Homo sapiens: one gene and its partners. The protein of the gene in region 1 interacts with the protein of each later gene in a biochemical or structural test. Each region holds a gene or a part of one and is shown in the gene's direction. Other genes may lie near its edges.

Region 1 (4,043 bases):
ATTACAGTGGGTGTGAGCCACTGCACCCAGCCTGACCGTGGTTTTTGTTTTAACAATTCAACTTTTCAATGAATGTTTCTAGAAACCAAATCATATAACCAAAATAAGAAAAGTTCTGGTGAAAACTTTATACTTGCTTTAAATAATTTAACTTAATAACGAATGATTTTTCTTATTGTATTTTAGATATTTGGAATTTTGTTCACATTGGCTCAAGGAAAGCTCACATCAGACTATGGTCCTAAGGCAGGGAACATTTTTCTCTGTGTCTGGATGTTTATAGGCATCATATTAACAGGTAAATTAGGGCGTTTGCCTGGCAAAAGGACTTGTGTCATGTGTTAATTTTCATATATATTGCTTCTCAATAGCTTGACAGAACTCAAGGGGAAAAAAATGAGATAAAAAGCAGGACATTATTTGTTTTCTTCTAAAGACATGAATCTCTTACTTCATTTTGCAGATTTCAAATTCAATACAGTTACTCTGCATAGCAAGCAAAACTGTTATAATAAGAGTAGTAAAGGCTGGGTGTGTTGGCTCATGCCTGTAATCCCAGCACTTTGGGAGGCAGAGGCGGGCAGATTACTTGAGGTGAGGAGTTTGAGACCAGCCTAGCCAACATGGCGAAACCCCGTCTCTACTAAAATTAGCCAGTTGTGGTGGCGCACACGTGTAGCCCCAGCTACTTGGGAGGCTGAGGCAGGAAAATTGCTTGAACCCAGGAGACAGAGGTTGCAGTGAGCCAAGATCACACGAGTGCACTCTAGCTTGGGCAACAGCGAGACTCTGTCTCAAAAAAAAAAAAAAAAAAGAGTAGTAAAGACCTGGAGTTGGGAAGACCTGGCCTCAAATTCCGATTCTGTTGCTCAGTGGGAGTGTGACTTTAGACCCGTTGCTTAACCTCTCAAATCCTCCTTTCCTTATTTATATAATAGAGTGTTAAAGCCTGCTTTATAGGGTTACTGTGAGGATTAATTGAAATGGTTCATGAAAAGTTCCTAGTGTCTGGCACCTGGGACGTGCCTAACATGTGTTACTATTGTTATAATGTGGTAGAGATGGTAAGCAGTCAAGTGGTAGTGGTGGAAATAGTATGTGGAATCCTTAGCTAGTGCTTATACTTCTTAGGTATAGTCATCATAGACATGGGCAGGAAAGAAAATAGTGCTCAATCTCCAGAGAAAGAGAATGTCAGAGAATTTTTATCCATAGTTTGCCCATGCACATGGGTGTACAATAGATTTGGAAGCAGAACTTTTTCCAGGTGCATACTTTTAAAATGTCATCATTCCCTAAACATTATAGTATAACAGCTATTTACATTGTATTAGGTATTAGTAATCTAGAGATGGTTTAAGTACATAGGAGGATGTGTGTACGTTATATGTAAATACTTCCCAGGGGCGTCCAATCTTTTGGCTTCTCTGGACCACATTGGAACAAGAAATATCTTGGGCCACACATGAAATACTCTAATACTAATGATAGCTAATGAGCTAAAAAAAAAAAATTGCAAAAAATCTCATAATGTTTTTTAAAAATTTGTGAGTTTGTGTTAGGCCACATTCAAAACTGTCCTGGGCCACATATGGGCTGCAGACCACAGGTTGAACAAGCTTATACTACACCATTTCATATAAAGGCCTTGAGCATTCGTGGATTTTGGTATCTGAGGTGGGGTCTTGGAATCAATCCCCCGCAGATACCAAGGGAGGTTGTGCTTCGTTGATCTGGTTATAACTTAGTTGGAGGATCTGGTTATAACTTAGTTGGAGAATCTATCAGAAGGATGTGAATCAGAATTTCTTCTACTGTTTGTGGAATACCTGATCATTCTTTGTGAAACCTTCAATATGAAATCTCACCAGTGATAGACATTTTGGATATACACAACTACCTAAGGTCGCTCACTCAATTGTATGAATGATAGGAACCTGAGCATTCATTCACGAAGCTAAAAGAAAGTGAATGCACTCTGTTTCCTCAAAGAAAAACATCTTATCACAGGGAGTTTTTCCCCCTGTCCAGTTAGTAAAATAAAACATACAAAACTGTGAAATATGTAATACATTAACTGCTTTAACTATTGTTCTTTCATAAGTAATTCCATGTTGGTTCTTAATTCCTAGGCAAGTACTATATCTTATCTAAGATTATTACTATTGGCTGGACGTGGTGGCTCATACTTGTATTCCTAGCACTTTGGGAGGCTGATACAGGTGGATCATTTGATGTCAGGAGTTCAAGACCAGCCTGACCAACATAGTGAAACCGTGTCTCTACTAAAAATACAAAAAACTTTAGCCAGTTTTATGGGCACACACCTGTAATCTCAGCTACTTGGGAGGCTGAGGCAGAAGAATTGCTTGAATCTGGGAGGCTGAGGCAGAAGAATTGCTTGAATCCGGGAGGCGGAGGTTGCAGTGAGTGGTGAAGATCACACCACCACTCCAGCCTGGGTGACAAAGTGAGACTCCGTCTCAAAAAAAAAAACAGTATTATTGTTATACCAAAGAAGGGAGCAGTTTTGTAATCCTCCTTCAAATTACTTTTACAAGAGATTCATGAATACTAATTCAAACAAATCAAGTCTAGAAAATTAAGAAGTGAAAATAGATCTTTAAAATTAGTTTTACATTGATGCTTTTACCATCTCAAATGGTATTCCCTGAGGCACAACAATATTGAAATCAGGGCCCTGATTAATACCCCCAAATTATTACCCCTACAGTGGCCTCCAGGTGTTTAAGCAAAAGGAAGAGTAGTAAATCTCTCCTCTTAAATCAGAAGCTAAAAATGATTAAGCTTAGTGAACAAGTCATGTCAAAAGCCCAGATAGGCCAAAAGCTAGTCCTTTTGCACCAAACAATTAGCCAAGTTGCTAATGCAAAGGAAAAATTCTTAAGGGAAATTAAGAATGCTACTCCAGTGAACACAAATGATAAAACAGCCTATTGATATGGAGAAAGTTTGAGTGGTCTTGTTAGAAGATCATACCAGCCACAACATCGCCGTAAGCCAAAGCCTAATCTAGAGCAAGGCCCTAACTGTCCAATTCTGTGAACGTTGAAAGAGGTGAGAAAGTTGCGGAAGAAAAGCTGGAAACTAGCAGAGGTCAGTTCATGAGGTAAGGAAAGAAGTTGTCTTCATAACATAAAAGTGCAAGGTGAAGCAGCAAGTGCTGATGTAGATGCTGAAGTAGGTTATCCAGAAGATCTAGCTAAGATGATTGATGAAGGTGGCTACAATAAACCACAAATTTTCCATGTAGATGAAACAGGCTTATACTGGAAGAAGATGCCATCTAGGACTGCCATAGCTAGAGAGGAGGAATCAATGTCTGGCTTCAAAGGACAAGCTCATTCTCTTGTGAGGGGTTGATGCAGCTGGTGACTTCACATTGAAACTAATGCTTGTTGACCATTCTGAAAATCCTAGGGCCCTTAAGAATTAGGCCAAATTTTCTCTGCCTAAGCTCTAACAATGGAACAATGAACCTGAACCCCGTAGTTGATAGTACATCTGTTAGTAGCATGGTTTGCTGAATATTTTAAACCCATTGTTGAAGCCTGCTACTGAGAAAAACATTCCTTTCAAAATACTACTGCTCATTGACCAATTCACCTGTTTACCCAAGAGCTCTGATGAAGATGTACGAGGAGATCAATGTTGCTTTCATGTCTGGAAACACAGCATCCCTTCTGCAGCCCGTGGATCAAGGAGTAATTTCAACTTTCAAGTCTTATTCTTTAAGAAATACACTTCAAAAGGCTGTAGCTGCCAGAAATAATTATTCCTCTCTTGGATCTGAGCAAAGTAAATTGAGAACTTTCTGGAAAGGATGCACCATCCTAGATGCCATTAAGAACATTCTTGATTCATGGGAGGAGGTCAAACTATCAACATTAACAGGAGTTTGGAGGAAGTTAATTCCCATTCTCATGGATGATTTTGAGGTGTTCAAGACTTCAGTGGAGGAAATAGCTGCAGATGTGGTGGGAATAACAAGAGAACTGGAATTAGAAGTGGAATATGAAGAG
Region 2 (4,043 bases), about 150 Mb from region 1:
TGGGAGGCGGAGGTTGCAGTGAGCTGAAATTGCACCACTGCACTACAGCCTGGGTGACAGAGGGAGACTCCTCAAAAATTACAATACAATGCAATAAAGGTCTTGGCAAACACACCTTTCTGAAATTTTTTAAAGGCAAAAGTTATAATATACTGTACTTCCTCAGTTCTGATTAGTTATCTATTATAGTACCATTTACTTAAATCATATCCTTTAAGGAAAAGTATAAAAACACTCCTTTAAATGTATATAGCCACTATGAAGTATACTGAGATCTACAACTTACTTTGAAATGAATTTTTTAAAAAAAGATGAGTGATGAATAGATAAATGGCTATGTGATAAAGGAAATATAGCAAAATACTCATTGTGAAATCTAGGTGCTATTTATATGGATGTCTATTGTATAATTCTTTCAGCTTTTCTATATATTTGAAGGTTTTCATATTTTAGGAATTAAAATATTAAACAACTTTCATCATAGAGTTAAGAAAATGGACCAAATTATAATTTATGAACTGATAACAGTGATCTTAGGCTTAGCTTAAAATTTTGATGCAGAATAATTTGGTAGAAAAAAATATTCATTATTTGCAATGTTTTCGTCTACATAAGAAAGGCCCTTCACTATGTATACAGTTTTTGTTGAACAGCCACTAGCCTTAAAAGACTACACAGTATTAACCTCACATATTCATTTAAATGAATAAAGGGACAGGTAATGGAGATCTAGCAGATTGGACTAAATTATTACTGATTCTAGGAAAATCTTTGAGAAAAAAATGTTATATATCCCTAAAACAAGTCTTTTTCCCTTCAGATTTGGTGCTTTTTTCCCCACAATTGAGGGTTCTATTTTGGCAGGTTTCTGCTAATCAAGGTCTTATTATACTTGTTTTAGCAAAATACATAATACATTTTGGGTAATAAAGTTGACTGTAACCCCAAATGAAACATAGTGCCCATTAGCTGACTATATATACATAAACACTATGTGGCAACCTAGGAAAATGGTTTTGATTTTATGTGGAGCAAGAACAGCTGAAATGATTCTATGGTCTCCACCTTGGTGATTGAAACCATATACAAAAGCACACATAATGGAGAAAGCAATGGAGGAAATGTCTAAATGGGATTGGGTTGAGGTAGTAAGAGAATAGTGTGGGTGATTTTTGTTTTCTTTCCTGGCCTCCTCACGATTTTCTGTTAGATGGTTATGGTGACATCAGTAATTGGCACACTAATGGATAAGTATGCATTTAGGGGGTCAAGTCAGTGTCTGCACACAGGTGACCCCTGGGTCTTTCTTTCAGGGTAGTCAGCAGAGTGCACACAGCAGCTGTCATCCCTCCTTCGCTCCTGTCATCACTGGCCTGCAAAACCTGGTTGGCACAAAAAGAGTTTCAGATCCTTCCCAGAAAAATTCAGGTATTACACGGACACACCCAGAGCAAAACTATCCTGTTACCCAAATTAAAAAAAAAAAATGTGTTTTTTAAAAACCAGTCTTCTTTAATATAAATGTTTTTTAATTTTTTGAGCTTGGCCACATAAGCTGAGCTTTCTGAAAGGCATGTTCTGAAGGTAGGAAAGCCATAGAGATTCCTTCAGTGGTGGCCAGGCATGGTGGCTCACACCTGTAATCCCAGCACTTTGGGACGGCTGTGGCGGGCGGATCACCTGAGGTCAGGAGATCGAGACCATCCTGGCTAACCCCGTGAAACCCCGTCTCTATTAAAATACAAAAAAAAATTAGCCGGGCGTGGTGGCATACGCCTGTAGTCCCAGCTACTCAGGAGGCTGAGGCAGGAGAATTGCTTGAAACTGGCGGGGGTGGTGGAGGTTGCAGTGAGCCAAGATCGTGCCACTGCACTCCAGCCTGGGTGACAGAGCAAGACTCCGTCTCCAGAAAAAAAAAAAGAAATTCCTTCAGTGGCACAACACAAAGCACCTGAAAAACAGAAAAGCAGAAAGCTGGAGTGCATGGTAAAATAAAATTACTTACAAAGAGAAAATTAATAAATTACAGGTCACTGGAGAAAGGTCAGAAGTGTGTATACCTTCTATGGGAAAATTGGGCCAGTTAAAAGAAAAAAAAAAGTGTGTATATCCTTGGGGGCAGGGTGGGACAAGGGGTCCTTTTAAGTCTTTTGTTGAATGGAGGGTTATCTTTGATTAAGGTAGAAAAAAATGTACAATGAAACACAAATGACTCAGCCGGGCCCGGTGGCTCATGCCTGTAATCTTAGCACTTTGGGAGGCCAAGGCAGGCGGATCACCTGAGGTCAGGAGTTTGAGAGCAGCCTGGCCAACATGGAGAAACCTCGCCTGTACTAAAAATACAAAAATTAGCCGGGCATGGTGGCACATGCCTATAATCCCAGCTACTTGGGAGGCTGAGGCAGGAGAATCGCTTGAACCCAAGAGGCAGAGATGGCAGTGAGCTAAGATCGGACCACTGCACTCCAGCCTGGGCGACAGAGTGAGACTCCATCTAAAAAAAAAAAAAAAAAAAAAACCACACACACACACAAAAATGAGTCATCCTCCAAGCATTTACTCACCATGTTCCAGGCAGCTGCTGCTATATAGCCCATCCACTTTTGTCAGACCAAATGGTTATGGCCACATTGATCTCAAACAGAGAGCACTTCTTTAAAATAGAGGACACAGCAGGCCGGGCACGGTGGCTCACGCCTGTAATCCCAACACTTTGGGAGGCCGAGGCAGGTGGATCACTTGAGGTCGAGAGTTTGAGACCAGCCTGGCCAACATGGTGAAACCCCGTCTCTACTAAAAATACAAAAATTAGCCGGGCGTGGTGGCAGGCACCTGTAATCCCAGCTATTTGGAGGCAGAGGCAGAAGAATTGCTTGAATCTGGGAGGCAGAGGTTGCAGTGAGCTGAGATGGTGCCACTGCACTCCAGCCTGGGTGACAAAGCGAGACTCTGTGTCAAAAAAAAAAAAAAGAGGACATGGCCCCTGGTGACTTGGCTACCAGCTTGGATGCTGAGGAAGGGTACAATACCTGCTTGCTTTAGTGTCTTCTCTTGAAAGACCTAGAAAATGAAACCATTTTTCATGGGGCAATATTATATGCTAAATATATTATTTTTTAATATTAAAAAGTTAATTGTGTTGCTTCTTTATAGGCACAGATATGGAACCAAGGACTGTTGAGATAAACAGGGTAAGTCAGTCATTTTGCTGTATGTATTTTTCTGGTTTGTGTTGGATTTGCACTAAATGTACATTTTCCCCAATACAGTTTATTGGATTGTGAGTGTGCTCTTTCAAGTTACTGAGATAAAAATATGGTCTAAATAACATCAATAAATAGACTTAGAAAAGTACAGTAGAGCACAGAGATGACCTCTATGAATTTTTTGGCAAATCTCATCCACTATATTCTGTGCTATGTGTAAGTTTTATTTTTATTTATTTATTTTTTCAATCTTAGTCTTTTAACCTGTACATGTAAAGTTTTATAAAACAAAAATGGTATCATGTGGCACATACTAAATAAGTATTTTTTGAGAGCATATAGTATGATTTTTATCGATTTCATAGTACTCCATCTTATGAATGTGCTATAAGTTTCTTTTTTTTTTTTTTTTTTTTTTTTTTGAGACAGAGTCTTGCTCTGTCACCCAGGCTAGAGTGCACTGGTGCGATCTCGGCTCACTGCAAGCTCCACCTCCTGGGTTCATGCCATTCTCCTGCCTCAGCATCCCGAGTACCTGGGACTACAGGCGCCTGCCACCACGCCCAGCTAATTTTTTGTATTTTTAGTAGAGACGGGTTTTCACCGTGTTAGCCAGGATGGTCTCGATCTCCTGACCTCGTGATCCACCTGCCTTGGCCTCCCAAAGTGCTGGGATTACAGGCGTGAGGCACCGTGCCCGGCCAAATGTGCTATAAGTTTCTTAACCAGTTTCCTATTATTGAACAATTAGCATATTTCTCAATTTTTGCTATCTTTTATAGTAAAACATCTTTATATTTTTGCCCAAATCATGAGTAACTTCCTCAGGATTAATTC
Region 3 (3,797 bases), on another chromosome or scaffold:
GCAGAGAGGTGGGGGGAAAAAAGAGGGAGAAGAATTTTATGGATTAAGAGATTCGAGTGACACAGGAACCCAGAGAAAACCCCCAAAGCGTAATATTAATGCTCCCTTTGACTTCCCCATCCCTGGCATACTGAGGACATATAACGTTCAAATCCTTTATCCCCTAGGACAACCAGCCTCTGATGTCACCTATAAATTCCTGACCCCTGATGTCACTGTGATCTGATATCCCCTTACCACCCCACCCTGGCATCTCTGGCAGAATATCTTCCCTTCCACCTAACTTTGGCTCTTCTGGCACCCTGGGGAGAAGGTTGGGTGGCGGGTGCTGTTTCCCTCCAGGCACTTTCATCTCTGCCCTGTCTTCCTCAGCTTATTCCCAGCACCTGGACAATGAGATCAGTCACAGCAGCTACCTGGGCACCGACTACCCCACAGCCATGACCCCCACTTCCCCTCGGCGCTACTCTCCAGTGGCCAAGGACCTGCTCGGGGAGGAAGACATTCCCCGAGAACCGAGGCGAATTGTGATCCACCGGGGCTCCACGGGCCTGGGCTTCAACATCGTGGGTGGCGAGGACGGTGAAGGCATCTTCATCTCCTTTATCCTGGCCGGGGGCCCTGCAGACCTCAGTGGGGAGCTGCGGAAGGGGGACCAGATCCTGTCGGTGAGGGAAGGCCTGCCCCTACCTGCACCACCCCCTCCCCACAGGGCAGAGCGCAGAGCTCTTGGGGAGGGGCCTGGATGGGCTGCAGCCGAGTCCTCTTGCGGGACCACTCCCTGCTCCACCTGGACCCAGAAGTGCTGCCTCCTGTCTCTGGTGACACAGCCTGTCGTCCTCTCTCTAGGTCAACGGTGTGGACCTCCGAAATGCCAGCCATGAGCAGGCTGCCATTGCCCTGAAGAATGCGGGTCAGACGGTCACGATCATCGCTCAGTATAAACCAGAAGGTACCAGGCCGGAAGTTCCTTGTCTTGTGAGCTGAAATGGCCCTTAGAACTCTTCCTCAGCTGATGGCTTCAGTAGGGGAGGACAGGGGTGACAGTAGGATGGGGACAGAGCTCAGAAACCTCCCTGTCCTTCCTCAGAGTACAGCCGATTCGAGGCCAAGATCCACGACCTTCGGGAACAGCTCATGAACAGCAGCCTGGGCTCAGGGACTGCGTCCCTGCGGAGCAACCCCAAAAGGGGTTTCTACATCAGGTCAGAGGCTTCCCGGGCTGGACTCCTCAGCCCCTCTGCGTTCCTGGGCACTCTGTGCCTGGCCCGGGCCTCAGCCGCTCCTCTTCTCCACCCTGCCTGCTCTAGCTCCCCACCCCAGGCCTGAGGCGCAGCCAGGGTTCATGGGCTTGGCTGCACAGGTTAACATTTGAAATACTCCCTGTCGATGGGAAAATAGCCTCTGCCCCAAGTATCCCAATTGCCTTCTAGCCCCTGGTCATCCCAGCACTTCCCCGGGACTCCCAGGCCACCCCACAATTTGGCGTCTCGAAGGTTAATGCTTGGTGAAGCAGGGTCCTCTAGGGTATTTGGAGTGTTGCCCCAGCCTTCACGTCCCTGTGGGCAGTCCCGGAGACGTGGGCCGCAGCTCTGTGGTGCCTGCCCCCGTCTCTCCAGCGGCATTTTGCTCCCCTCTTAGGGCTCGTCTCCATTGACTCTTTTTGTGGCTTAGGTTTCTGCCAAAACACACCTCTCTCCCGCCCCCGGGGGTCACCCCTCCACTTCTGTCCCTGTCTGGCCCTGTGGCTTGCATGGCCTCGTCTGCCGCTGCGCTCTGCAGATGTCTCTCGGAGGTGCTGGCCCTGGCTGACCTATTTCCAGAGGTCAAGACCTGCACTTCTGGCCATTGGCTTTCTGGCCATCTCCACTGGGATGTCCCACAGGCGTCCCACACTCAACATGTCCCACGCTGAGCTCATCATCCTGCTGTGGGCCTGGGTTCCATCTTGCTGTGCCAGCAGTTTCCCTCTTGTTGGATGGCATCACCAGCCACCCAGACACTGGCTCCCACCTGAGCCCTTGCTCTGCCCTTCCTCCCTGCTCGGGTCCGGTTGGTCCCCAAGGTTGTTCTGACTCCCAGTGACCACAGAGGTTGTGTAGTGGCTCCCAGGCGGAATGTCATCTGGTTGTCACACTTCCAGGGGGCCCGGGGTCTCCTCCCTCCTCTCCAGGCCCATTGCTTTCTTCTGTGTCTTCATTACTTCCCTGGTTCTGACCCCAGGGGTTGTGACTTACTGATAGAAATTTGATACTGGTAAGGGTAACCATTATTTGGAAACACGGGACATTTTCTTTTTCTTATGAATTTGGGCAGATTCAGGGTTACCCCTGTGACTTTATGATGTGCGTGTGTACTGCACACTGCTTTCTGTTTTTCTTTTTCTTTTTCTTTTTTTTTTTTTTTGAGACGGTGTCTCGCTCCGTTGCCCAGGCTGGAGTGCAGTGGCGTGATCTCTGCTCACTGCAAGCTCCGCCTCCTGGGTTCATGCCATTTTCCTGCCTCAGCCTCCCGAGAAGCTGGGAATACAGGCACCCGCCACCGTGCCCGGCTAATATTTTGTATTTTTAGTAGAGACGGGGTTTCACCATGGTCTCAATCTCCTGACCTTGTGATCCGCCCGCCTTGGCCTCCCAAAGTCAGCTGGGATTCCAGGTGGGAGCCACCACGCCTGGCCCAAACTGCTTTCTTGAGAGGGTCAAGTTCAAGCCCTGCCTCTGGAAACTGTGCTCAGTGTGGACTGAGTGATGGCTAATAGTTGTTATGAGTTATAGTCAGCGTTTGGTCCCCACACAGTTTTGGGTTCCTCGGCATCCATAGCTCCCATGGGAGTGCCATCTGCAGACCTCTGGGCCGGGTCTTTGGGTGACTGGGGCATCCTTCCTGGAGTCCTCAGCTGGGCTCTGACCGATAGCCACTTGCCCTCCAGGGCCCTGTTTGATTACGACAAGACCAAGGACTGCGGCTTCCTGAGCCAGGCCCTGAGCTTCCGCTTTGGGGATGTGCTGCATGTCATCGATGCTAGTGATGAGGAGTGGTGGCAGGCACGGCGGGTCCACTCTGACAGTGAGACCGACGACATTGGGTTCATCCCCAGCAAACGGCGGTGAGGCTCCTGGGCTCTGTAGCCTTCCTGCCACAGGCACTGAAGTTCCCAAGGTCCCCCGGGGTGGGCAGCCAACAGGGGATGGGTTTGCCCTCTGAACTCCTAGGGGTTTGTCTGTTGGGCCCTCCTGGGGTCCGTGGCTCCCATGAGCCTTTGGGAAGGACAACTCCTTATTGAGGAGCACAGTGTCCAGGGCTGCAGGAGAAGGGGTGTCAGCTGGCCCAGAGTATGGAGAAGGGGTTGTCAGCTGGCTCAGAGCATGGGGGTGGCAGGGGGTAGGCATTCCCCTACCCGCGTATCCCTCCATGTATCCCACAGGGTTGAGCGACGAGAGTGGTCAAGGTTAAAGGCCAAGGTAGGTGGAGGAGGGTGTGAGCCTGGGTGGAAGTGTGAGGGCTCATGGAGCTGAGCTCATAACTAACCCCGTGGCCTGCTTTTTCTTCTTAGGACTGGGGCTCCAGCTCTGGATCGCAGGGTAGGTAGGGTTAGTTCGGGAAGATGTGGGTGAGAGGAGCACTGAGTTGCTTTTGATATCCTCAAGGGGGAGACAGGGCTCCAGGTCCCCTGTTTCAGAGCCCCTTGCAGATGCCCCACCTCCCACCAGGTCGAGAAGACTCGGTTCTGAGCTACGAGACAGTGACGCAGATGGAAGGTGAGCCCTGGCCCCTGCCTTGGCCCCAGCACTTGCTGC
Region 4 (4,043 bases), on another chromosome or scaffold:
CTCCGGGTTCAAGCGATTCTCCTGCCTCAGCCTCCCAAGTAGCTGGGACTACAGGTGCATGCCACCGTGCCTGGCTTATTTTTGTAATTTTTGTATAGATGGGGTTTCACCATATCGGTCAGGCTGGTCTCGAACTCCTGACCTCGTGACCCGCCTGCCTCAGCCTACCAAAGCGCTGGGATTACAGGCATGAGCCACTGTGCCCGGCCCAGATAATTTCAGAAAGTGTTCAAAGTTAAGAAAACTTTGACTCTTCTTTGAGTTCAGAGTGACCAGAGCCATGAGAAAACTTATCCATTAGGGAGAAGCATATGTGTTCATGTGTGTGTGCATCTCTGTCTATCTGTCTCTTTTTTAAGGGGCAGGTGGCCCATTCCTGACCATTGCTTTACCTCTGGGGATGGTTTTCAGTGGCAGCTCCAAGTCCTGCCATCTCACTCTCTCTCTCACTCCTCTGCAATCCCTGCCTAGGTATTCCCTCAGAGCTCCTCGTGGAGTGGCCAGAACATTTTTGAAAATATCAAAGACTCTGATAAGATGCTGAGTTTTCGAGCCCATGGCCCGGAGGTCCAGGCTCATAACAAACGGAACTTGATACAGCACAATAACTCCACGCAGACAGACATCTTCTACACGGACAGGCTGGAAGACAGGAAGGAGCCAGGCCCCCCAGGAGGCAGCAGCTCCTTTCTGCATAAGCCATTCCCTGGGGGACCCTTGCAGGTCTGCCCCCAGGCCTGTCCCAGTGCCTCTGAGCGTAGCCTGAGCTCCTTCCGCTCAGATGCCTCTGGGGACCGTGGCTTTGGGCTGGTGGACGTGCGTGGCCGGCGGCCACTGCTGCCCTTTGAGACCGAGGTGGGCCCCTGTGGGGTTGGGGAGGCCTCCCTGGACAAGGCAGACTCTGAAGGCTCCAACAGCGGCGGGACCTGGCCCAAGGCCATGCTCAGCTCCACGGCAGTGCCTGAGAAGCTCTCTGTTTATAAAAAGCCAAAGCAAAGAAAGTCCATCTTTGACCCTAACACTTTCAAACGCCCCCAGACACCCCCCAAAATAGACTACCTGCTTCCAGGTCCTGGGCCTGCTCACTCTCCCCAGCCCTCCAAGAGGGCGGGGCCTCTGACACCCCCAAAACCTCCCAGAAGGAGCGACTCCATTAAGTTCCAGCACAGGCTGGAGACTAGCTCCGAGTCAGAAGCCACTCTGGTGGGCAGCTCCCCATCCACTAGTCCCCCGAGCGCCCTGCCCCCTGACGTGGACCCCGGGGAGCCCATGCACGCATCACCCCCTCGCAAGGCCAGGGTCCGCATTGCTTCCAGCTACTACCCTGAAGGAGATGGGGACTCCTCCCACCTGCCGGCCAAGAAATCCTGTGATGAGGACCTCACCTCCCAGAAGGTGGATGAGCTGGGGCAGAAGCGTCGCCGGCCAAAATCTGCTCCCAGTTTTCGGCCGAAGCTTGCTCCAGTAGTGATTCCTGCTCAGTTCCTGGAGGTATAGCTGAGCCCCAGGGTGTGGGGAGGGGAGGCCTAGAGAGGGGCAGTTGGCCGAAGGAGGGCTGCTAAGTGGCCCTGCACCAGTGTCCCAGGCCCCTGTTTAGCCTGGTGCCTTTGCCTTTGCTGTTGGACTCAAGTGGGAAGTGGCCCAGCTAGGAGGTAGGTAAGTGGCGTGGAAGTGCATGGTAGTGGGAGTGTGACACAAGAGGGGAACACTTTATTGGGCATAGCATTTGGTTTGCTTTTTTAATAAGAAGCTTTTGAACTTACACAATAAAACCTAGGGCATAGACTTGCCTTGAAGGGCTAGGGAGATGAGGTGGCACGTGTGAGGCTGAGTGGGCAGCGGGACGGCCTGATTGCGTGTGCTGTCATAGTTTCCAGAAGGGTGAGATTGCTGGGGACTGTGGAAAGCATCTCAGGCACCAGTCCACACTGCTCACTGGGGACAAAGAGCTTCGCACAGCCCTCCACATCGGGCAGAGTTGTACGTGCCTGATGCACTTGTGCATTCTCACCTTTTACGTGATCTCTGTGAAAGATTCATTCTCTGTGGTTTTCTTCTGAAGTAAAGCTGCTTCCTTGAAGATGTGTAAGGCAACATGAATGGGCAGCGTTCCCATTCATGTCCCTTCCTGTGCCCCAGTGGGAGGAGCTGGTTCCTGGGGGGCAGAAACTGGCTTGCAGAGCTGCTCAAGCGTTCCACTGTTTGGTTTTTTTTTTTTTTTTCCCCTAAGATGGAGTCTCACTCTGTCACCCAGGCTGGAGTACAGTGGTGCAGTCTTGGCTCACTGCAACTTCTGCCTCCCGAGTTCAAGCGATTCTCCTGCCTCAGCCTCCCAAGTAGCTGGGATTACAGGCACCCACTACCATGCCCAGCTAATTTTTGTATTTTTGGTAGAGACGGGATTTCGCCATGTTGGCCAGGGTGGTCTTGAACTCCTGACCTTAGGTGATCTGCCCGCCTCGGCCTCCCAGAGTGCTGGGATTATAGGTGTGAGCCACTGCGCCTGGCCACACTCCACTCTTTCTAGCAGACACTCTTGCCCTTGCATCTGCAGGAACAGAAGTGTGTCCCGGCCAGTGGAGAACTCTCCCCGGAGCTCCAGGAGTGGGCACCTTACTCGCCTGGGCATTCCAGCCGGCACAGCAACCCCCCGCTATACCCTAGCAGGCCGTCTGTGGGTGAGTCAGCCAGCCAGGGGCTGGGGCTGAGGGTCGGTGTAAACTCGGGATGCCTAGTCTCCAGGGAGAGGGGAGGCAGCATTTCAGAGAGCTGCCATGTGTTTTCAGCCCTGAGGTCCAGAGAACTGGGAAATGCTGTCCTGTCTGGGATGGTTTGTCTTATAGCCATGACATGTCTTAGCTTGTCAACATGCTTTCTCCCCATAGCAACCTGGGAAATAGGAAGCATGAAAGAGACTTCCCCCCTTTTTACAAATGGAGACAGGCCAGGAGCCACAGCCACATTGTGAATTGGTGGTTAAAACTCATCTCCCAAGTCCTTTTCCCAAAAGACTGCGGCTGCGTCCTGGGATACAGGGGAAAGGCTTGTGTAAGTCCTGGGCTGGCTGGGTCCTTTGGGGCGTCTTTTCTCACCAAGCCCATTTCTAGGCACTGTTCCCCGGAGTTTGACCCCCAGCACCACTGTGAGCTCCATCCTGCGGAACCCCATCTACACTGTGCGCAGTCACAGGGTCGGCCCCTGCAGCTCTCCACCTGCGGCCCGAGATGCTGGCCCCCAGGGTTTGCATCCCAGGTATGTGAAGGCACCCTACGCTTCTCTGTACTCCAGCTGCCCAAGCCTGCCTGGACATGGAACCATGAGTGCATAAAGAGGCTCATTGGTGGAGAAGCTTCCTTGCCTGCCTGGGAGGGGACTGGCTAGAGCAGCACAGGGAAAGGGAGCCTTAGGGCTGCTTTCTGAATTCATCAGCACAAGGTTTCAAAAGGTACTGGAAGGACACGATAGTGATAGCAGCTGATGTTTGAGTGCTTATGTCCCAGCCACTGTGCTCAGACCTTTATGAATATCATTTCACCGAATCAACAGCAACCTCATGGGCTAAGTCCTATTACTGTTTCTGTCTTGAAGATGAGGAAACTGGTACTTCATAAGAGGGTGGGCTGGCTCCAAGCCACTCTTATTCATTCATTTGACAGATATTTTTTGAGCACCTACTACATGCCTTGGTCTATCCTAATTATAAGAGGATACATTGCTGAACTAAACAAATTAGCTTCTAGCTCATGTCGTGTGGTTTTTCAAATGTGGGAGGCAGACAAAAAAAAAAAATGAACGAAGTGATATCAGATGGTGCCAAGAGGCTATGAAGGCAGTCAAACAGGGTGACAGGCTGGGCTGTAACTTGGAAGAGGGTGGCAAGTTAGAGTGGGTGGTCAGGAAGGGCCCTGTGGCAGAGGGGATGCTGCTGTGACCAGAAGGATGAAAGAGGCCAGCTGCACAAGACCTGGGCTGGAGCCTCCAGGGAGAAGGGCCATCGGTGCCAAGGCCAGGGCACCCAGGCACAGTCGTGGGAGCTTGTCAAA
Region 5 (4,043 bases), on another chromosome or scaffold:
ATAGTGAAATATTATGTAAACAAGGCTAATTGTGATTGACCATGTCAGGGTTTTTGCATCTCTCCCTCCAGTTGGCAGTATCATATCTGATCACAGCAGCAAGATCAGTGGCCAGAGCTGCCCCGGAATAGGTGGGGCTTACTTGCAAAAGAAAATCCTTCAGATTACCAGGAGCACAGCCAAAAGAACAGACAGTACTGAGAAGGCCACTGAGGAGAATAGAGACAGGACAAGTTGTGAGAACACAACCAGAAAAAGAATGACATCCCCGTTTAGAAGACTTAGGGAAAGAATGCTTTCAAGGGAGAGACTAGTCAACAGCCAAAAAGAGGACACAGATCACAATCAAGCTACAGAAAGCTGTGAGAAAGTGAAGGATGTTGGAAGCAACATCAAAGATGAGAAAGGGAGTGCCATCTTCAATTCAAATAGCCAAGGCAACAGTAACACTTTAAACTGCTTCTATACGCGATTCAAGTCTAAAAGGAGGAAGACACTCTGATGAAGTTCCTTATTTAATTTTAGTGTTAAGTTTGTTTTCAGTTATTAATGTATACATGGCTTAAATTAAACCATTTGTCAAAGCTTAGGCAGACAACTTAGTAAAATACTATTTATAAACACTTGAAAATGCCTCATTTGTACATAAGTTATTTTACTGATGTATTGAGTTAGTAAATTTTATACTCTTGTTTTCTGTAGTTGACTTTATTTCCTACTGTTAGCTGGATCTGTGAGTGAAATATGTAGAGGAGGCTTTTTTATCTTCTACTTTTTACGTATCTTTGATTGGGGGAGAAGGGACTAGTCTAACATAGCAATATCAGAATCATCTGGGAAACTTGTTAAAAAATGCAATTACTGTGTCCCACCCCAGACTTCATAAACTTGAATTGCCAGAAATGGGATCTGGAATGTTTATTTTAATTGGCTTGCCAGGTGGTTCTTAGTATTATTATATTTGAGAAATACTGATCAAATAGACATAAGAATGAAATTATTTTTTAAACAATGAAGCAAGATTATTGTGTAGAGCAATGACTTTTTCTTTTCAAGAAGAAGGTTTTTATTTATTTTTAATTTACTTATTACATCCACTTTCTTGGTCCTCTTAAAAATTGACTAATCAGCTCATGGACATTGACAAATAGCAGTGATCCCAAGTTCAGAGATGTATGATAGACGTCAGAAGACTGGCTTGTCTTGGCTTACCCTGTTCCTGTCCACGTAGGCCAAATATAAATCACACATTTTCTAGGCCTTTTTCTCTTTGAAATAGTTAACGAAACGACTTAATAAGATTACTGTGCAACAAATTATTCCTTAAATGACTTGAGTTATATGTGAATAACTCCAAGATCCATAAACAGAGAAAGACTTGGAACTAAGGATGTTGTCATCCTCTTTCTGCATGAAGATGAGGCCCTGAGAATTCCAGTAACATACCCAAAGCCTGTAATTCTTCCTAATGACATTTCTAGGTATTGGTCCAAAGGTCACATATCTACTAAACCCTACTTTCCTCTGTGAGCAAGAAGATATTTTTTACTTCTTTGAGACCCGTCCCTTGTTGGGATTACTAGGGCATTTTCTTTTTCTTTTATTTCTAAACAAAAATTTGGTTTCTTCCAGTTATCAAAATAGATTATTATGTACATTAGCCATTCTGTTGCAGATTTGTTTTTGGGTCCTTCACCTCAGTGCGTCCCTAGAATACAGAAGAACATCTCTCTAGTTGTCTGCTGTGCAGTAAGTCACAGAACAACATAGAACATGTAGATGCTGTTTTTTTCTATAACACATTATTAAACATGTATCCACTCAGCTGTTTAATATTCTGCAAGGTTGGTGAAGAAAAAGGAAACTAAGTATGACACTAAGTTTAAACCTAAAACAATTTAAAAAACTGAAACAGGCTGGGCATGGTGGCTCATACCTGTAATCCCAGCAATTTGGTAGGCTGAGGCGGGAGGATCGCTTGAGGCCAGGAGTTGAAGACCAGCCTCGGCAACATAATGAGACCTCATTTCTGCAAAAAGTTTAAAAATAACTGGGTGTGGTGGTGCAGACCGTAGTCCCAGCTACTTGGGGCTGAGGCAAGAGGACCACTTGAGCCCAGGAGTTCGAAGCTGCAGTGAGCTATGATCGTGCCATTGCACTATAGCCTGGCAACAGAGCAGGACCCTGTGTCTAAAAAATAAAAATAATCTAAAACAGTGACTCTCAACTCAAGACAAGACTTCTTAGGTGGGATATGCAGAATATATGGGGTAAGTATATATAGTTTGATAAAGCAAAAATGTAGTTCTTTCCCTTGAGTCCTGGACTCCCACCCCTACCCTTACTTCAAGATGGTATTTGGGATTCAGATCAGGTCAAGAAATATTCATATTAATCAAAGGAAGGAGCGTTGGGTTAAAAAGAAGTTGAGAAACCCTAAAGACATGTACTTATTAATATTTGTAATCTTCTTATTTTATTAAATGATTATAGCTGTGGGAGAGCCTGAGAAAGATATACCTTTAAACTAGTTTTCTGAGTAACACTGGACTTTGACTGTCTTTTTCTTGAATGTGTAGTTGTATTGGTGTGGTGTGGATAGTAGGCAAATGGTTATGTAGGGGAATGTGTGGAGAAAATTGGCACCATTATATCTACATAGATGGAAACTAAAATTGCTTCTACTTTGTCTTCTGTTATTTTTGTGGGGTTTTTTTTTTTCATCCTTTCCCCTACTACCCCCACCATATGTTCCCTTTTTTTGTAGTTTGATCAGTGCTCTTTTCTTGTTCAGGTTACACACTTATTCCATCAGCTAAATCTGACAACTTGTCTGACTCCAGCCATAGTGAGATTTCTTCACGGTCCAGCATCGTGAGCAATTGTTCTGTTGACTCCATGTCTGCAGCTCTACAGGATGAACGGTGTTCCTCTCAGGCCCTGGCAGTCCCTGAATCCACTGGGGCATTGGAAAAGACAGAGCACGCTTCAGGGATAGGAGATCATAGTCAACATGGCCCTGGGTAAGCATCATTGTCTGTGTTCATAACACAAAACCCAAGCCAAGTGGCCACTGCAAGGAGTGCTCCCCACCTTGACCTTGGACCTCCCATGGGGTAATTGCAGAGTTATCCATAAAAGAATATGTGGGCCAAGCACATATTCTCTATTCTGAATATGTAAATAAGCACTATGTTGAAAGATGTATGGGTGTTCATTTTTAAAGTGTTACTAAATTCAAGTAACTTTTTATCATTATGTATCTTTCCAGTCAGAACTCAAAGTGCATCTGCTACTTATATAGGGGAGATAATTTTTGAAATTCTGGCTATAGGTTAATCAAAAAGGTTGTGTTTTGGAAAGTGCCTCGAGTGCTGTGCACATTGTAGACAGGTTGGGAGAGTAGGACTAGCCCTTGATCTCTGTCCTCTGAAAGTGTAATTTGGGGAGTAAGAATAATCACCTAGCAAAGGTTAATTAAAAAAAAAAATCAACTCTAAATTTCTATTTAGAATCAAGCAACGTGGAAATCTTTGAGAAAGTTTATTCTAACTGATAAATATTGTGAAATCTGGTCTACTTTAATATGAAAAATTTAAGATAAATTATTACCACATTTATAAAGATTTCTAAACTAGGATCTCTACACCAGAGGTCAGCAAATGTTTTCTATAAAAGTTACATAGTAAACATTTTAGACTTCACAGGCCATAAGGCCTCTGTCACAACTACTCTGCTATTACACCAGAATAGCCATAGACAACACATAAACAAATGGCATGACTGTGTCCCAGTAAAACTTTTTTTTTTTTTTAAGGCGGAGTCTCGCTCTGTGAGACAGAGTGTCACTCTTGTTGCCCAGGCTGGAGTGCACTGGCGCGATCTCGGCTCACTGCAAGCTCCGCCTCCTGGGTTCACGCTGTTCTCCTGCCTCAGCCTCCCGAGTAGCTGGGACTACAGGCGCCCACCACCACGCCCGGCTAATTTTTTGTATTTTTAGTAGAGACAGGGTTTCACCATGTTAGCCAGGATGGTCTCGATCT
Region 6 (4,043 bases), on another chromosome or scaffold:
GAAGTATAAGATACCAAAGACTCAGGAAAAGATCACAAGCCCTTTGGCTCCCTCCTTGGCTGGAGAAGAGTGTTGTTTTTAGCCTGGAGGGGGACAGAGGGGCTGAGGAAGGAGCAGCAGGGCCAAGAGGGGAGCTCAGAGAGGAACTGTCCTTCCTGGAGGCTGATCTTACTCACAGACCAGCAGGGGGCGCTGCTGGTGAGCCAGTTTTGTGGCTGTTGCCAGAGTGAAATTTTAAAATATGATCTATGGCTGGGCACGGTAGTTCATGCCTGTAATCCCAACACTTTTGGGAGGCTGAGGTGCGTGGATCACCTGAGGTCAGGAGTTCAAAACCAGCCTGGCCAACATTGCGAAACCCTAGTCTCTACTAAAGATACAAAAAAATTAGCCAAGCTTGGTGGTGCGTGCCTGTAATCCCAGCTACGTGGGAGGCTGAGGCAGGAGAATTGCTTGAACCTGGGAGGCGGAGATTGCAGTGAGCTGAGATCGTGCCATTGCACTCCAGCCTGGGTGACAAGAGTGAAACTCCGTCTCAAAAAAAAAAAAAAATCTATCCTTCAGGGGCAGTTGGCCAGGGCGTTCTTTTTCACATAAGGACTTGAGGCTGTCTCAGGGACCTGGGCAATAGGGAAGGGTCCCCATATTGTCATGATCCTGACATACAGCATGGAAACTGAAGACAGGGTTCAAACCTTTGGCTGGCGCAGTCATCTTCTTCCTAAGAACTTGGGTCCACTTGAAGTGCTTCGGCGCAATGGCAGATTTACAGGAGGGAGAGAGCATTTCAACAGCGCACTCACACATTCCTTCCACCGCTACACGGAGACCCTTCGAAACCTGGATGGGTATTTCTGTGTGACTGAGGGCCGAGGATGTGTGAGAGACCTGGCTTGGGGATGGGCCACAGGTACTGGCGGAATGAGGCCAGGAGCAGGCCCGGTGGCGAAGGGTGGCAGTCAGCTGGTGAGAGTTTCCAAGGGGCACTGAGAGCCCCCAGGTGCAGCCGATGCGGAGGGTTAAAGCCAGGGTATGCCGTATTGGGTAGATGAGGCCGCAGGGTGGTCCTGCCAGCAACAGCAGCCTCCTCTTCCCCACCTCTCCAGCGCCTGCAGGCTCTGCCCACAGCCCACTTGCAGGAGGCCGCTTGAGCCCTGAGGTGGGGCCTGGGCTGGGCTCCTGGACTCACAGCAGTGAACGCCCACAGGCTTGGCTGCGAGTTGGGGCCGGCAGGGCGACCCCTTCTCTGAAGCGCCAGCCGCAGAGAGAGCCCCCTGAACCCCACACCTCCCAGGAGGCAGCCGGTACCCGGCGTGGAGTGACGGGGAGGCGGCGGCTGGCGGCACACCAGCGGCCCAGATGACACCGGAAGGAGGCGCAGCCCCGCGGAGCCGGCTCCCCGGGCTTGGAGCTTCCGCGGGGGCGGAGGATGTCGTCCAAGGGGAGGAAGAATGGCGGTGGCCCGAGGGAGCCCAAGTGGAGTCCGAGGGCCGTGGGTGGTGGAGCCGGGCCTCCGGGGCTCCAGGGCTCTCAGGCCGTCCTTCCCAGCCAGGTGGCCTCGTCAGGCGGAGACAGAAGCAGAGGCCTGGGGGCCGCCCTCCGCTCTTCCCAAAGGCCCGACCCTCTCCTGCGCGGGCGCTGCCCCCGGCCCTCCTGCCGAGCCCCATCAGCTCGCCAACTCCGCAGGCCAGCCCGGCGGCGCCATCTGGCGGTCCCCGGGCGTCGCGCCTCCAGCTGGGTCTGTGCGCGCGGCAGAGATGCTGGGCGTGGGAACCGGCAAGTCCTGGAAACGGCTTAGGGCCCGTCAGGGAGGGCAGTTCCACGCCTGCTGGAGGGCAGGCCGCCTGCTGCGCGCTTCTAATCCGGCCCAGCTTGTCTTTCCCAATGCATACATTCATCTGCTGCTCTTACATCCTGCCACGTGGAGAGTGGGAAGGGAATTGAGGCCAAAGCCCTTGTTTTCACCTGTTTTGGGATCCTGTTGAGTAGGAGTTTGCTGGGGGCGCCCGTGCAGGACCCCCTTGAGGGCAGTTGGGGAGGCACGTGAGGAGCAGGACAGCGCATAAGGAGGGCTCACACAGCCCAGAGCCTGGCGGGAGGCCCCGCTGTGGGCTGAGGCGTCACCAAGGCCGCCAAGAGCCCCGCCGCGCTCCCAGGGCTGCACAGCTGCCAGCCTGCTTGGCGAGCTCCGGGAGCTCAGTACAGCCCTCACCTCCCACTGTCTCCTGTCTGCGCACCAGCAGGCGGCCGGCCAGGCCCTGAGTGCTGTTTCAGTGTCCAGGCCTTTGCCATGTCAGAGTCGGTGATGTCCACTGAAGCAGCTCAGCGGAAGTAGAAAGAAGTGACGTGCTTCATGGGGCCTGTGTGGAGTCCCAGGTCTCATGTCTTGCAGGCCTGGCCTGGCACAGCCACACATCCCTAGAAGAGCAGCCAGGCACACCCTCTGCCTCCAGTGGGCACTGGGTTCTGTTGCTACCGATAAATACATGCGGGGTAGACAACTAGCAGCACGATGCTCCCGGAAAACACACTGAAAGTCCATTTTCGGCATCAGATGAGTGGAAAGGAAATACAGATGGGGTCAGGTGCAGTGGCTCACACCTGCAATGCCAACAGTTTGGGAGGCCAAGGCAGGAGGATCACTTATGTCCAGGAGTTTGAGACCAGCCTGGGCAATATGGCAAGACCCCTATCTCTACAAGAAAACTTTTTTTAATTAGCTGGATGTGGTTGTGCTCACCTACATTCCCACTCCAGTCTGGGCAACAGAGCCAGACCTCATCTCGAAAGAAAAAAAAAGCAACAAAAATATGACATGTAGTAAATAATTCATTGTTGTCCCAGACTTTCTTTGAAACAGCTTTGACCTGGAGCATCTGGGCCGTGCCACAGCTTAGGCAGGGACAGTCAGGAGTAGACCCTTTGGGGTTCAGGGCAACACTGGGGTTCGCTCACGGTGGAGTGCTGGTGGGAGACAGCCTTCATCAGATGAGGGAGGGCCCCCAGTTTCTTTCTTGTTCTTCTAAGCCCGAGCAAGGGCTCCCTTGAAGGCTTATGGGTGCATCCTGCACCCAGCCCTGCCGCAGCCCCCTGCTGAGGAGGCTGCGGGGAGCCTGTGCCACGTGCCTGTCTCCAGCTGGCCTGCCCTCTGCACAGGCCCAGCTCATCGCCCAGTCTATCGGCCAGGCCTTCAGCGTGGCCTACCAGGAGTTCCTGCGAGCCAATGGCATCAACCCCGAAGACTTGAGCCAGAAGGAATACAGCGACATCATCAACACCCAGGAGATGTACAACGACGACCTCATCCACTTCTCAAACTCGGAGAACTGCAAGGAGGTAAGCCACACCCACCAGCCTCAGGGAGGCCACATTTGCCAGCTTCTGCTCCCTGAGCTCCTGCAGAGCGAGCCTTCCCGGGGTCCTCACGCACACCCTTGCCTTCCTATCAGACTCCAGTGGGGCCCGGAATGTGCACCTCGCTCCTGCCTTCCAGCTGAGCACTTGGGTGTGAAATGAGGTGTTTGTAACAAAGAAGCTGATTACAGTCAGCTTTAATGACCTCGAAAATGCGCCTTTTAATGCTGCTATTATCATCAACCAGCACTCAGCACCCAGGAGATATTTCTGAAAAGCATGTGGCATCTCTAAAGGGAGCCTGGGGGCTCTGGCAGAGGAGGCTGGAAGCCACCAGTAGCAGAGGCCTTAGCTGGTCCCAGTGGCTTCCCCCAGGGGACTTTGGAAAGTTCTTATGGGCAGAGGAGCAAATTCCCTGGGGATGGCCCATACCTGGACTGTTTGTTAAATGGCTGAATGATTGTGTCTGCTGTGGATGAGTGGATGGTCTCTGCTGCTTGTTGAATGGGTGAATGCATGATCCTGGTTTCTTGCTGAAGACATTCCAGGCAGTTTCTGAGACAGTGACCTTTGAGAGGAAATAAAAGTAGAAGGACTTTTCCAACAAGAGTGAAGGCCGGGGGCAGGATATGGGTATGGGAGCCTGAGAACATTCCTCTGGCCTCTGTGGGTGTGGAAGGAGCAGGAAC
Region 7 (4,043 bases), on another chromosome or scaffold:
TTCAACGTAAAGTCACCAGCTACATTCACCCATTAGCCTCTAAGAAGCGTCAGCCTGTCCTTTGAAACTTTGAAATGAGGCATTGATTTCTCTCTAGCATTTTCTTCTGATGTAAGGCTATTTTGTCTGAATTGAAAATCTGTTGTTTAGCCATTTTCATCAATTATCTCAGCTAGATCTTCTTGATAACTTGCTGTAGCTTCTTCATCAGCACTTGCTGCTTCACCTTGCACTTTTATGTTGTAAAGATGACTTCTTTCCTTTCACCTCATGAACCAACCTTTGCTGGCTTCCAGCTTTCTTCTGTGGCTTCCTCACCTCTCTCAGCCTATATAGAATTGAAGAGAGTTAGGGCCTTGCTCTGGATTAGACTTTGGTTTGAGGGGAATTACAGCTGGTTTGATCTTCTGTTCAGATCACTAAAACTTTCCCTATATCAACAGTAAGCGTGTCTCTCTTATTATTCGTGTGTTCACTGAAGTGGCCCTTTTAATTTCCTTCAAGAGTTTTTCCTTTGCATTCACAACTTGGCTATTTGGTGCAAGAGGGCTGCCTAGCTTTTGGCTTATCTCAGCTTTCAACATAACTTCCTCACTAAGCTTAATCATTTTCTAGCTTTGAGTGTGAGAAATGTGTAACGTTTCCTTTCACTTGAACACTGAGAGGCCATGGTAGAGTTATTAATTGGCCTAACTTTAATATTGTTGTGTCTCCAGGAATAGGGGGACCTGAGGAGAGGGAGAGAGATGGGGCAATGACCAGTTGGTAGAGGAGTCAGATAACACACAACATTTACAGATTAAGTTTGCTGTCTTATGTGGGTATGATTTGTGGCGCCCCAAAACAATTACAATGAACATCAAAGATCACTGATTACAGATCACTGTAACAAATAAAAGACTAATGAAAAAGTTTGAAATATTGTGAGAATTACCAAAATGTGACGCAGAGACATGAAGTGAATATATCCTGTGGAAAATTGCCAGTGATAGACTTGTTTGACACAGGGTTGTCACAAACTTAATTTGTGAAAAACGTGTTGTCTGCAAAGTGCAGTAAAGCAAAGTGCAATAAAATGAGCTATGCCTGTACCTGACTTCATTGAGTGGCCTTGTGTGGTTATTTTATTCCTTTTGCAAGCATTTTACCAAATTTGTATTTGAATTTTCATGTTTGCCATACCAGTAATATATGGAGAGCTTGTCTTTTTTTTTTTGAGACGGAGTTTTGCTCTGTTGCCCAGGCTGGAGTGCAGTTGCGCAATCTCGGTTCACTGCAACCTCCACCTCCTGGGTTCAGGCGATTCTCCTGGCTCAGCCTGCCGAGTAGCTGGGATTACAGGCGCCTGCCACTGTGCCTGGCTAATTTTTTCATTTTTGGAAGAGAGGGGATTTCACCATGTTGGGCAGGCTGACCTCAAACTCCTGACCTCAGGTGATTCATCTGCCTCCACCTCTGAAAGTGCTGGGATTACAGGCATGAGCCACTGCATATGGCTGCACATGTTTTTTCTGTTTTCCAAAACTTCAAGTTTTTTTTTTAATCTCTTCACAGCCATAAAACTCAAAAGAATTAAGCACTGAATCATCCTAGAGAAAGATGGGAAAACACAGTTTTCAAACTTTTGCATTTTCTGTAAGTCAAAGTAAAATAGACAATTTACTAAAGTTTTTTTTTTTAATTTAAAATTCCCCAATTAAAAAAATTAGCTGGGCTTGTTGGCATGTGCCTATAGTCCCAGTTACTTGGGAGGCTGAGACTGGAGGATTGCCTGAGCCCAGGAGTTTGAGACTGCAGTGAGCTGTGATTGTGCCACTGAACTCCAGCCTGGGTATCCCATATCTTTTTTATTTTAAAAGAAATTCCCCGTAGGGACAATTTTGACCTTGGATAAGCTATAGACTCTTGATATTGTAAAATATTAATTAATCCAGGAGGCATAAATAGAATGAATTCCAGAATGAGAAATAGAAGAATACTTTTTGTGTTTAACTACTGATTAGGAGTTTGCTATGAAGCAACTTAGTGAGGAAGACGTAGAGATAAAATGATCTGTTAATTGATTTTATTTTACATATCTATTGGGAGAGTACAAAGCATATGCTAATGACTTGATACTAGAAAATGTGTGAACTTCTGGGTTTTTGGAAATCTGCTCAAGTGTTTTTATTTATGATAGAATATTTGATTTCTCCCTTAGGCCTATTATTGTTTACTTTTGTGGGTAGAAGAATCTAGTCAGTGAGGTATGCACAAAACATTGGATTTTACTTATTTATTTTTAAAAAACTTCAACTTTTTCTTAGATTCAGTGAGTACATGTGCTGATTTGTTACATGAGTATATTGTGTGATGCTGAGGTTTTGGATATGAATGATTCTGTCACCTAGGTATTGAGCATAGTACTCAATAGGTGGTTTTTTAGCCCTTGCCCCACTAGTCCCTTGCGTAGTGTCTATTGTTCCTGTCTTTATGTCCATGTATACCCAATTCTTAGTTCCCACTTGTAAGAACATGCGGTATTTTGTTTTCTGTTTCTGTGTTAATTTGCCTGGGATAAACATTGGGTTTTTAAAATGTTGGATTAAGGCATTCTGTTCATTCATGCCTTTGTCAATAAGTAAATTTCTCACTGTTCTGTAAAATACATTTACTGAACTATACGAATACTATACTTTCTTAAATATATATTCTCCTTATATGCTTATTTCTTAATACTATGTTACCATGTCAGTGATTACAAAATATTTTTTAGTATAAGGGAGAGATTTTTTTTTTGATTGGGATAAGGGAATGTGTTCTCCAGCTACAATTCTTGCCCAGGAATTTATGGCAGTCAAGACACAAGTATTTCTATATCCTCAATGTAGGTTGCTTTGTCAGCAAAGGATCATGAGTTTTATCCAGTCTCTTCTGTCCAGTTAGTCATTCTGAATTCCAACTAATAAGCTTTCCGCATGGGTTCAATTTTTAGTAAGTTTTCAAAGCTATTTCAAGAATTATGGCCAAATCACCTTCATTATGAAACGATTCTCCTGACCTCCTTTATTTTAGGATTTAAGATCAAGAGGAATGGTATAGTATAATAAAGTAGAAAATCCTGTGAAAATGAATTATTAAATTTAAACTTTCAAAGATTATGGGTAAGATTTTTGTAACCCATTTCTTCTGGTAACACCATTTTGCTAGCCACTGAGGCCCTAATTTAGGATACAATTTTGAAGCTTCTATCAGGGGCTTATCATTTTGAAGGACTGTGACATCTTTATCATTAAAAGCATGGTAATACTTGGAATAAACCTATTAAGTTCTGTTCTATTTAAACATCTCTCATAGGTAATAAACAAGCTAAAATTCTTTTAAAAGGTAAACTGGTGTATATATGGTGTAAACTGGTGTATATATTTAAGGCAATGACTCTACTTTCATTTATTTATTCAATCATTTATCCATTCAACAAAGGTGTATTATGAGTGCCTGCTATGTGCCAGGCATAGTGCCAGATGCATGTTTGAAGTAGCAAATGATATTCAATCTCTGCCTGTATGAATCTTAAAATATATTAGGAAGACAGATGCAAAAACAGGCAATTTCAATGCTGTGTGGTGAGGTTAACGCTCTTTGTCAAGAAAACAGACAAGGAACACTCAATCCCACTAGGGAAGATGTAATATTTAAGATGAGATACAGAAGATGAATAGAAGTTTACCAGACAATGTGGGAAATGGCAAGAGGCTGTTTCAGATCATTATTTATTTTTCTTGTTTTTTGGCCTTGAACTATATAATCACATCCTGTGTTATCATCATCATCGATAGCAGTGACATGGTGGAAAAAACCTAGAACAGTAGTCAGAAGATTTGGCTACTAAAAGAAGGGACAGGATCAGGTAATCCGTGAGCTGGACTTGGTCTGTAAATTTAGGTATGTTAGAAGTATCCATTTATTTTCTGTAATTCACCTTTACTCTTAGTAACTGAGTAACAGACAAAATAACTTATCCTTTTTGAAGTTTTCCCCACTTCCCTGGGGTTAAGGTGGGG

The links.
Region 2: the proteins of FLVCR1 (region 1) and PATJ interact in a test that uses a peptide from one of them, tested with the Homo sapiens proteins (one large-scale study listed by IntAct).
Region 3: the proteins of FLVCR1 (region 1) and DLG4 interact in a test that uses a peptide from one of them, tested with the Homo sapiens proteins (one large-scale study listed by IntAct).
Region 4: the proteins of FLVCR1 (region 1) and DLG5 interact in a test that uses a peptide from one of them, tested with the Homo sapiens proteins (one large-scale study listed by IntAct).
Region 5: the proteins of FLVCR1 (region 1) and RAPGEF6 interact in a test that uses a peptide from one of them, tested with the Homo sapiens proteins (one large-scale study listed by IntAct).
Region 6: the proteins of FLVCR1 (region 1) and APBA2 interact in a test that uses a peptide from one of them, tested with the Homo sapiens proteins (one large-scale study listed by IntAct).
Region 7: the proteins of FLVCR1 (region 1) and DLG2 interact in a test that uses a peptide from one of them, tested with the Homo sapiens proteins (one large-scale study listed by IntAct).

The regions. Positions count from the first base shown.
Region 1 is NC_000001.11:212,888,960-212,893,002, forward strand, and holds part of FLVCR1 (choline/ethanolamine transporter FLVCR1), read left to right. Parts: intron 1-186; coding exon 187-298; intron 299-4,043.
Region 2 is NC_000001.11:62,119,868-62,123,910, forward strand, and holds part of PATJ (inaD-like protein), read left to right. Parts: intron 1-1,313; coding exon 1,314-1,428; intron 1,429-3,153; coding exon 3,154-3,191; intron 3,192-4,043.
Region 3 is NC_000017.11:7,193,628-7,197,424, reverse strand, and holds part of DLG4 (disks large homolog 4), read left to right. Parts: intron 1-372; coding exon 373-668; intron 669-849; coding exon 850-952; intron 953-1,090; coding exon 1,091-1,205; intron 1,206-2,929; coding exon 2,930-3,106; intron 3,107-3,424; coding exon 3,425-3,461; intron 3,462-3,553; coding exon 3,554-3,581; intron 3,582-3,710; coding exon 3,711-3,758; intron 3,759-3,797. UniProt on the Homo sapiens protein: Postsynaptic scaffolding protein that plays a critical role in synaptogenesis and synaptic plasticity by providing a platform for the postsynaptic clustering of crucial synaptic proteins.
Region 4 is NC_000010.11:77,818,530-77,822,572, reverse strand, and holds part of DLG5 (disks large homolog 5), read left to right. Parts: intron 1-471; coding exon 472-1,491; intron 1,492-2,554; coding exon 2,555-2,678; intron 2,679-2,885; coding exon of another isoform or gene 2,886-2,968; exon of another isoform or gene 2,969-3,107; coding exon 3,108-3,252; intron 3,253-4,043. UniProt on the Homo sapiens protein: Acts as a regulator of the Hippo signaling pathway.
Region 5 is NC_000005.10:131,432,410-131,436,452, reverse strand, and holds part of RAPGEF6 (rap guanine nucleotide exchange factor 6), read left to right. Parts: intron 1-71; coding exon of another isoform or gene 72-502; exon of another isoform or gene 503-692; intron 693-2,794; coding exon 2,795-3,023; intron 3,024-4,043. UniProt on the Homo sapiens protein: Guanine nucleotide exchange factor (GEF) for Rap1A, Rap2A and M-Ras GTPases. Does not interact with cAMP.
Region 6 is NC_000015.10:29,102,223-29,106,265, forward strand, and holds part of APBA2 (amyloid-beta A4 precursor protein-binding family A member 2), read left to right. Parts: intron 1-3,156; coding exon 3,157-3,336; intron 3,337-4,043. UniProt on the Homo sapiens protein: Putative function in synaptic vesicle exocytosis by binding to STXBP1, an essential component of the synaptic vesicle exocytotic machinery. May modulate processing of the amyloid-beta precursor protein (APP) and hence formation of APP-beta.
Region 7 is NC_000011.10:85,617,007-85,621,049, reverse strand, and holds part of DLG2 (disks large homolog 2), read left to right. Parts: intron 1-4,043. UniProt on the Homo sapiens protein: Required for perception of chronic pain through NMDA receptor signaling. Regulates surface expression of NMDA receptors in dorsal horn neurons of the spinal cord.